Regions from separate parts of the Homo sapiens genome. Here region 1 is linked to region 2. Evidence: fine-mapped expression QTL. A gene starts in region 2. The other region holds a variant in brackets. All regions are shown on one strand. Distances are from middle to middle.

The links. PIP is the estimated chance that this variant, and not a neighbour inherited with it, causes the effect.
Region 1: its variant is the best candidate, but not a certain one, in a credible set for the expression of IFRD2 in skeletal muscle (GTEx, PIP 0.58).

What each region holds. Positions count from the first base shown.
Region 1 is chr3:50,312,768-50,317,150 of GRCh38, reverse strand. No RefSeq gene overlaps it. Among named protein-coding and RNA genes, the nearest start is that of HYAL2, 7.8 kb to the left of the region's middle. The variant A/C (reference allele first, on the strand shown) is at 2,124.
Region 2 is chr3:50,290,421-50,294,752 of GRCh38, reverse strand. It overlaps IFRD2 (interferon related developmental regulator 2), which reads left to right and starts at 2,324. Exons shown (of 12, transcript NM_006764.5): 1 at 2,324-2,536; 2 at 4,074-4,193; 3 at 4,281-4,332. The coding sequence starts at 2,479. HYAL3 (hyaluronidase 3) reads left to right here. Exons shown (of 4, transcript NM_003549.4): 2 at 1-44; 3 at 1,032-1,121; 4 at 1,238-1,921. The coding sequence ends at 1,507. RefSeq lists enhancers at 890-1,445, 1,836-2,025 and a silencer at 2,406-2,615.

The DNA.
Region 1 (4,383 bases), 22 kb before region 2:
TCCCTGAGGAAAGAAGGAGCAGCTGGAGTTGTCAGACCAGCTCTGAGCTGCTTCACTAGCCCTGCCTCTGACGGGAGTGCATTCTGCCTCTCCCCTCAGCCAGCAACCCCACACCTGGGGTCCCGCCCATGTCCGTGATGACTCACCACGCAGCCCTGCTTCAGGAGGCTCTGGCTCTGGGGAGACAGACTCAAGAAGCCGTTGAGTGGTGAGGGCAGCCAGCAGCAGGGGAGCAGGGGTGGTGCCCTTGGAGATGCTTCCCACATTGGGTTCTAAAAGGTGAGGGCGGCAGCTCGATGCTCAGGAACAAATCCTGGGCAGAGGCTGGAGGAAGTTGGAGGTGGTGAAGGTGAACAGTTCAGGGCTGGGGTGTGGCTTAGTGGCTGCTGTGGGCAGAGGCAGGAGGGGCAGCCCTAGAGCAGCACCAGGCCTGACTTCACCTAATACTGACTTACTCATTCAGTAAACGCTGAGCACACAGTGTGCCTGTGCTGGGCTAGGTGCTGGGGATGCATCGATGATGCATCTATGAACCACACCAACAAAGACCCCCGTCCTTGTGGGAGTGACAAAATAGAGGTAGATGCACACTAGATGCAAAGACCGAGATGCCAGATGGGAGAAACAAGCCCGGCCAAGCCAGTGCCAACCCAGGCTGTAAAGATATCCTTCCCTCACCTCTTTCGCCGGTGATGGGTAGAGAATGGAGAGGAGAGAGTGAGGTGGTAACACTGGAAAGGTGACGTGGTAAATTCACACAGTGAAGGAGGAGGTGCACATACAAGTGGAGGGGTCCCAGGTGCTCATGGCCATGGTGGGGGGAGGCCAGGCTGGAGAGAAGATTCAGGTGTTGGTCAATAAAATGATGGGCCGGGTGCGGTGGCTCACCCCTGTAATCCCAGCACTTTGGGAGGCCAAGGCAGGTGGATCACTTGAGGCCAGGAGTTTGAGACCAGCCTGGCCAACATGCTGAAACCCTGTCTCTACTAAAAATACAAAAATTAGCTGGGCATCCGGGCCTGGTGGTTCACGCCTCTAATCCCAGCACTTTGGGAGGCCGAGGCGGACAGATCACAAGGTCAGGAATTAGAGACCAGCCTGACCAACGTGGTGAACCCCATCTCTACTGAAAATAAAAAATTAGCCGGGTATGGTGGTGCCTGCTTGTAATCCCAGCTACTCAGAAGGCTGAGGCAGGAGAATCGCTTGAACCCGGGAGGTGGAGGTTGCAGTGAGCCAAGATCACACCACTGCGCTCCAGCCTGGGCGACAGAGTGAGACTCTGTCTCAAAAAAAAAAAAAAAAATTAGCTGGGTTTGTTGGTGCACACCTGTAGTCCTAGCTGCTTGGGCAGCTGAAACACAAGAATCACTTGACCCCAGGAGGTTGCAGTGAGCGGAGAATGGGCCACTGAACTCCAGCCTGGGTGACAGAGCAAGACTCTGTCTCAAAAAAAAAGTTGCCACAATAAGATGATGGCACTTAGCAAAAGGACAGCAGGAAAGGAGAAAGGAGCTGTGGCCTGTCCCCCATACCTGTGACTTCCTGCACCTGTGACCTCCCCCACACAGATGTGACCCATGCATACCTCTGAGCTACCCCACCCACACCCAACACACAGAGGTGATCCAGACCACACCACTGTGACCTTTCCCACCTAGCTATGACCCCTACATACCTGTAACCCCTCCCATGTGTGACCCCATACAGCTGTTACCGTCTCCAAATAACTGACTCCTCCGCAACTGTGACCTCTCCTGCATAGCTGTGACCAGTACCCATCGAGCTGTGACCCCCTCCATATAAACCTTTATGAACCTCACATTTCTTCCCCCGGAGGACCTAAAAGATGGTCCTAGGGAAAGTGCAACTCAGGGAGAGCCAGCACTGTCCTGTGGGGAAAGCGGGGAGTGGGTAGGAATAAGGTAATGGGGAGTGATGCGGCTCAGAGATCTGAAGTGTTGAACAACCGGAGACAGCAGGCGGGACTGGACCATCAAGCTGATGGACCCCAGACATATGCGCACACACACACCATTTGAGCCAATCCTACTGGACCAGCCCAGTAGGAGCAGGCCTGTGGGCAGGGCCCTGGGGTGGAGGAGGATTTCAGGCACCCTCAG[A/C]TTCTTCCTATGGTTCCACCATTAGAGCTTCTCCCTTGGACTGAGGCCAGCTGGAGAATGCTGGCCTGGTGGTTACCTGGATTGGGCCAACTGCAGCACTAGGTTTCTGGGGGCACCAGGAGGTGGCATGAATCCTTGAGGAGGGGGGCCAGGGGTTGCCTTGATGTTCTGTTCCCTCAGCCCTCAAGAGTTGTGCCAGGCTCTCTGGGCCTACATGGTCATCACTCTGGGACCCTGCTTCCTGAACTGGATCAGCAGTCACCACTTCTGGGGCTTGATCTTGTGTACAAGTCTCATGCTGTCCCCAGCATCCTGGGCCCTTCTTTCCCTCAGCCCTGCCAGCTTTTCTATCCCAGGCAGCCTGTAGGACCCAACCCAGATGGTAGTTAACTGTGAGTTTCGTTGCTTCAGTGGCCACCGTGCCAGGGGTGGCCTGGCTACAGTGGCTCAGTCTCAGACTTGACTCAGATCCAGGTAGCACTTTCACTTGGGCAGGGACATGGTGTTTCCTTCAACCTACTCTGGCAGGCAAGGCTGGGCCCAAGCACCTAGCAGGTGTCAATAACCAGCTTCTGAATCAGCTGTGAACCCAGAAAATCTGACAAAGGTCTCAGTTAACTTAGAAAGTTTATTTTGCCGAGGTTGAGGACTTGCTGGTGACACAGCCTCAGGAAGTCCTGAGGACATGTGCCCAGGGCGGTTGGGGCACAGCTTGGTTTTATAGATTTTAGGGAGACATGAGACATTAATCAATATGTAAGAAGTACATTAGTTCCAGAAAGAAAGGTGGAGACTGCTCAAATCAAGGCTCCCAGGCTCAAAGCACTGGGGGCTTCCAGGTCACAGATAGGTGAGAGACAGATGGTTGCATTCTTTTGAGTTTCTGGTAAGTCTTTCCAAAGGAGGCAATCAGAATATGCATCTATCTCTGTGAGCAAAAGGATGACTTGAATAGAATGGGAGGCAGATTTGTCCTGAGCAGTTCCCAGCTTGAAGAGGCCCAAGATACTTTCCTTTCACATTTACCCCATTTTCTTTTTCAAAATCTTTTGGAGAAAGCATTTTGCAAGAAAATGAGTATCTGGTCTCAGGTTTCATCTGATCTCTCATTGCTAGATAAGTAGGTCCGGAAAGCTCATTTTTAGCAGGTTGTAAAGTCTCATGCAGTGTGAAGAGAAAATAGGGAGAAGGAAGGAAGAGAAAAAAAAAACAGCAAAAGAACAATCCCAGCCCTGGCGGGGTGGCTCATGCCTGTAATCCCAACAATTTGGGAGGCTGAGGCGGGTGGATCACCTGCGGTTGGGAGTTCGAGAACAGCCTGACCAACATGGAGAAACTCTGTCTCTACTGAAAATACAAAAAACTAGCCAGGCATGGTGGCTCATGCCTGTAATCCCAGCTACTCAGGAGGCTGAGACAGGAGAATCACTTGAACCCAGGAGGCGGAGGTTGCAGCAACCTGACATTGCGCCATTGCACTCCAGCCTGGGCAACAAGAGTGAAACTCCATCTCAAAAAAAAAAAAAAAAAAAATCCTGGGAAAATATAGGCCACATTACTCTGAAGTCCATACATTGGTAGGCAGGTATGAAAGTGGCTTATGTATGTACATAAACAGGTTACTGTTACTTTCTTCTGAAGTGTAAGTTGTCTGACTTTAGTTGACACGCTTTTAAGAAACCACAGCTAGGGCCGGGCGCAGTGACTAACGCCTGTAATCCCAGCACTTCGAGAGGCCGAGGCGGCCGGATCACAAGGTCAGGAGTTCGAGACCAGCCTGGTCAATATGGTGAAACCCTGTCTCTACTAAAAATACAAAAATTAGCCAGGCATGGTAGCAAGCGCCTGTAGTCCCAGCTACTCGGGAGGCTGAGGCAGGAGAATTGCTTGAACCTGGGAGGCATAAGTTGCAGTGAGCTGAGATCGCGCCACTGCACTCCAGCCTGGGTGACAGAGCGAGACTCCATCTCAAAAAAAAAAAAAAAAGAAACCACAGTGGCCGATTGCAGTGGCTCCCCCTCCCCCTCCCCCTCCCCTCCCCCTCCCCCTCCCCCTCTCCCTCCACGGTCTCCCTCTGATGCCGAGCGGAAGCTGGACTGTACTGCTGCCATCTCGGCTCACTGCAACCTCCCTGCCTGATTCTCCTGCCTCAGCCTGCCGAGTGCCTGCGATTGCAGGCACGCGCCGCCACGCCTGACTGGTTTTCGTATTTTTTGGGTGGAGACGGGGTTTCGCTGTGTTGGCCGGGCTGGTCTCCAGC
Region 2 (4,332 bases):
ATGTCCGCCTCACACACCGGAGATCTGGGAGGTTCCTGTCCCAGGTAAGTGGAAGCTGAGGTCTAGGGGTCTGAGTCAGGAGGTATGGCCCTGTTCTAGGAAGGTCCCAGGAGAAGACCTTGCCTAGGGGTTGGTCCTAATCTAGGCGTTCTCAGCGGAAGGCCCTGTCCTGGAGCATCTGATGAGGGAGGCATGGCTTTGCCCTGGAAGATGTTGAGGGGTAGGGAGGCCCAGCCTTTGGAGTGCTGGCCTGAGGGGAGATATTCTGAGTGGAAGGCCTGAGAAGCCACTCAGAGACTCGATACAAAGGGGCCCTACTTGGGCTGGGTGAGTGTCTCACACCTATAATCCCAGTACTTTGGGAGCCTGAGATGGAAGGATTCCTTGAGGCCAAGAGTTCGAGACCAGCCTGGGCAACATAGTGAGACCCCAACCTCTACCAAAAAAACATTTGAGACAGAGTCTTGCTCTGTTGCCCAGGCTGGAGTGCAGTGGCACCATCTCAGCTCACTGCGGCCTTCACTTCCTGGTTCTAGTGATCCTCCCACCTAAGCCTCCTCCCGAATAGCTGGACTACAGATGCATACCACCACACCCAGCTAATTTTTATATTTTTGTAGAGATGGGGTTTTGTCATGTTGCCCAGGCTGGTATTGAACTCCTGGGCTCAAGTGATTCTCCCGCTTTTGCCTCCCAAAGTGTGGGATTACAGGTGTGAGCCACTGTGCCCAGCCTAAAAAATTATTAGCCAGGTGTTATGCACCTGTAGTCCCAGCTGCTTGGGAGGCTGAGGTGGGAGGATTACTTGATCCCAGGAGTTCAAGGCTGCAGTGAGCTATGATCATGCCACTGCACTCCAGCCTGGATGACAGAGTAAAACCCCGCCTCTAAAACCAAACCAAACTAGAGAGTCCCTACTGTAGAGTTAGAATCAGATTGTGACAGTGAACCAGAAGAGTTTCTTGAATGTGGATGTGTGCCCACATGGATCTGGCCAGCCCAGCACTGGCTTAGCAGCTCTCTGCCTCCAGGATGACCTTGTGCAGTCCATTGGTGTGAGTGCAGCACTAGGGGCAGCCGGCGTGGTGCTCTGGGGGGACCTGAGCCTCTCCAGCTCTGAGGTGATCATTGCCCCTTTGAGCCTGCCATGTAGCACATGCTGGGGTCCCAGGGTGGGGGACGGCCATGTCAAGATTATAGAGCAGGCATATTGACACATATCTTCCCTTCTCCTCAGGAGGAGTGCTGGCATCTCCATGACTACCTGGTGGACACCTTGGGCCCCTATGTGATCAATGTGACCAGGGCAGCGATGGCCTGCAGTCACCAGCGGTGCCATGGCCACGGGCGCTGTGCCCGGCGAGATCCAGGACAGATGGAAGCCTTTCTACACCTGTGGCCAGACGGCAGCCTTGGAGATTGGAAGTCCTTCAGCTGCCACTGTTACTGGGGCTGGGCTGGCCCCACCTGCCAGGAGCCCAGGCCTGGGCCTAAAGAAGCAGTATAAAGCCAGGGCCCCTGCCACTGCCTCTTCTTTTCCCTGCTGCCACTTTTCCAGTCCTGGAACTACTCTGTCCCACTCTTGCTCTATTCAGTTTACAGTCAACCCTCCCAAGCACACACCCCGCTTCCCTTGGAATCCCTGAGGGGTAGAAGGGGCCAGAAAAAACGCTTATAAAACCAGAGGCCCTCTGAGATCATGTGAGTCCTCCATGGCAAGGAAGCAGTTCCAGGGAGAGTCAGGTTCCAGCTAGTTAGGGCTGCCAGCCTAGGGCTTTGTGCCTACACCTCACTAAGCCCATGGAGAGGTCACAGATGGGCCGTGCACGGGCAGATGGGCCCCAAAAAATCTTGGCGAAGGTCGGTAAAGTGCTAAGCTGTTGTCTGCACTCTTTCATCATAAAGTCACTTTTTTCCACTGCCTGAGGTTTGGCTGTTGCTCCTGTTATCCCAAGCTCTAAGCCCTTCCCATGGTCCCCAGACCCAGGCAGGGGTAGGTCTCGTCTGGAGTGTCCCGCTGCCAAGTGCCCTGAGAAGCCAGTCCTGCCTTGGTGCTCCACTGAGGGACGCTTCGGAGTTAACCACCGTGCACTTGTTCCCGACGCGGGGCTGGGGCGCGCGCAGGGCATTGTGGGTGCATAGTTCAGCCAGCGCGTCGTCGGCTGGTGGGCCCCAGGCGTGGACTACCATTCCCATGGTGCTCTACGCGCAGCTAGCCGCCGTCGCCTGCGCGCTCAGGCCTCTGGGATTAGTAGTTTTAGCCTCGTGGATGTGGGCCTGAATCGGATGGCCTGGAACTCGCCTTCCCGGCGACCTGTTTGGCAGGGCGGGGCGCCTCGCGAAGATGGTGGCGCGCGTGGCGTGTGGCTCCCGTCGTCTGGCCAAGTCTCAGCGCAGCGCACCGGCCGGCGTCTCGTTGGCCTGGAGCCCACACCCACCGGGTCCCTGACCCCGCGCCCCCCGCGCCCGGTTCCCGGCATGCCTCGCGCCCGTAAGGGCAACACGCTCCGGAAGGGTGGTCAGCGCCGTGGAGGAGGTGAGTGGGGTGGGGGGCGCGGGACAGCTGTATGAGCGGCGGGCGGGGGTCCTGCTGGATCCCCTTGGTTGTTCTCGAGGGCCCTGGGTGGGGAACCCCCTCGGCCAGCCCCACGCAGCTTCCCATAACTCTACCGAGGCTGGCACGTGCCCCAGCAGTCATTGGCCACGTGCGTGCCCAACTTGAGCTCGCTGCCCACTGCCTGTTGGGAGTCCGCGCTCCCAGCGGTGACCCGGCCAGCCCCTCCGGGCCTCAGTTGCCTGCTGGGTGGACAAACTCACCGGACAGGGCAGGAAGCCAGTCCTCTTGCCAAACCCTGATCCTTTCCTGGACTGGTCAAGGAAGTTGGCGGGAGTCCTGGCCTGCTCCGGTGAAGAGAGGGAGGGGGCTCTGTTGGGAAGCTACCTGGTTAGGGCCTTGGCAGCTTGGCAGGCCTGACTCCACAAGGTAGCTGAGTATCCTGGAGCCTGAGGCAGTCTTGGGACTCGCTTATCAGCTTAGACCAGGAGCCTATCTTAATGCGTTAAACACATATGTTTACTCTGCTGGGATGGGGTGCCTACCACGCACAAATTTATTTATTTTTATTCTTGAGGGGGAAGGGAGGAGGGCCGGGCACAGGAAGGAGGAAAATACCTAGGCACAACTTTAAACTGGTCACCACCATGGTGGGTTTTGGGTGGGGGACATCTAATAGGGTGTGGAACATGTTCACTGAGTGGTGTCAGCCCCAGACTTAGGACTCAGGGAGGCCTGGGGGGAAGTGCTTCTGGGTGAGTCCTGAGAGGATGGAGAAGAGAGCAAGTTGTACAAAGACCTGGCAGCTGGAGGGACCCCAGCGCAGTGGAGTGAATGAGGGAAGGCTGGGCTGCTCCGGCAGGTAGAATAGTAAGATAAAATGGGAGCAGGCTGGGCGTGGTGGCTCACACCTGTAATCCCAGCACTTTGGGAGGCCAAGGCAGGCAGATCACCTGAGGCCAGGAGTTCGAGACCAGCCTGACCAACATGGAGAAACCCTATCTACTAAAAATACAAAATTAGCTGGGTGTGGTGTCGTATGCCTGTAATCCCAGCTACTCGGGAGGCTGAGGCAGGAGAATCACTGGAACCCGGGAGGCAGAGGTCGCAGTGAGCCGAGATGGCGTCATTGCACTCCAGCCTGGGCAACAAGAGCAAAACTCTGTCTCAAAAAAAAAAAAAAAAAAAAAAGGTGGCGGGGAGCAGAGGCCAGTGCGCAGGCTGGACTTTGTCCTGCAGATGAGGGGTGTGAGTAGTTCTTAGAAGTAGGGCCAGCCTGGTGATCACACCCTGTCCAAAACTCTGCCACAGCAGCCAACCTTGCCAATGTCAGCCCTTGGCCCTGGACAGACCCCACACACAGGAGTGCACCAGCCCTACTGAACTGACCCTTGGCTTTGGTTTTTCATCTCTGAGAGGGACACCATTCTATCTTTTGGGATTATGAGGTCGAGTGAGGTACCCCCAGCCATCCCTCATCAGTAGAGGCAAGTTGAGTGTCCTATTCCACCTTCTCCAGGTGCCCGGAGCAGTGCCCAAGCTGACTCGGGTTCCAGTGACGATGAGGCAGCCAGTGAGGCCCGCAGCACCGCCAGTGAATGCCCCAGCCTTCTCAGCACCACTGCAGAGGACAGCCTTGGTGAGAGCGGGTGGAAGTTTGACAGGGGCTTGGTGAGGGCTCCATGGGCTGAGGACAAGAAGCGGTGCTGACCAGGTGGCCTTGCAGGGGGGGATGTCGTGGATGAGCAGGGCCAGCAGGAAGACCTTGAGGAAAAGCT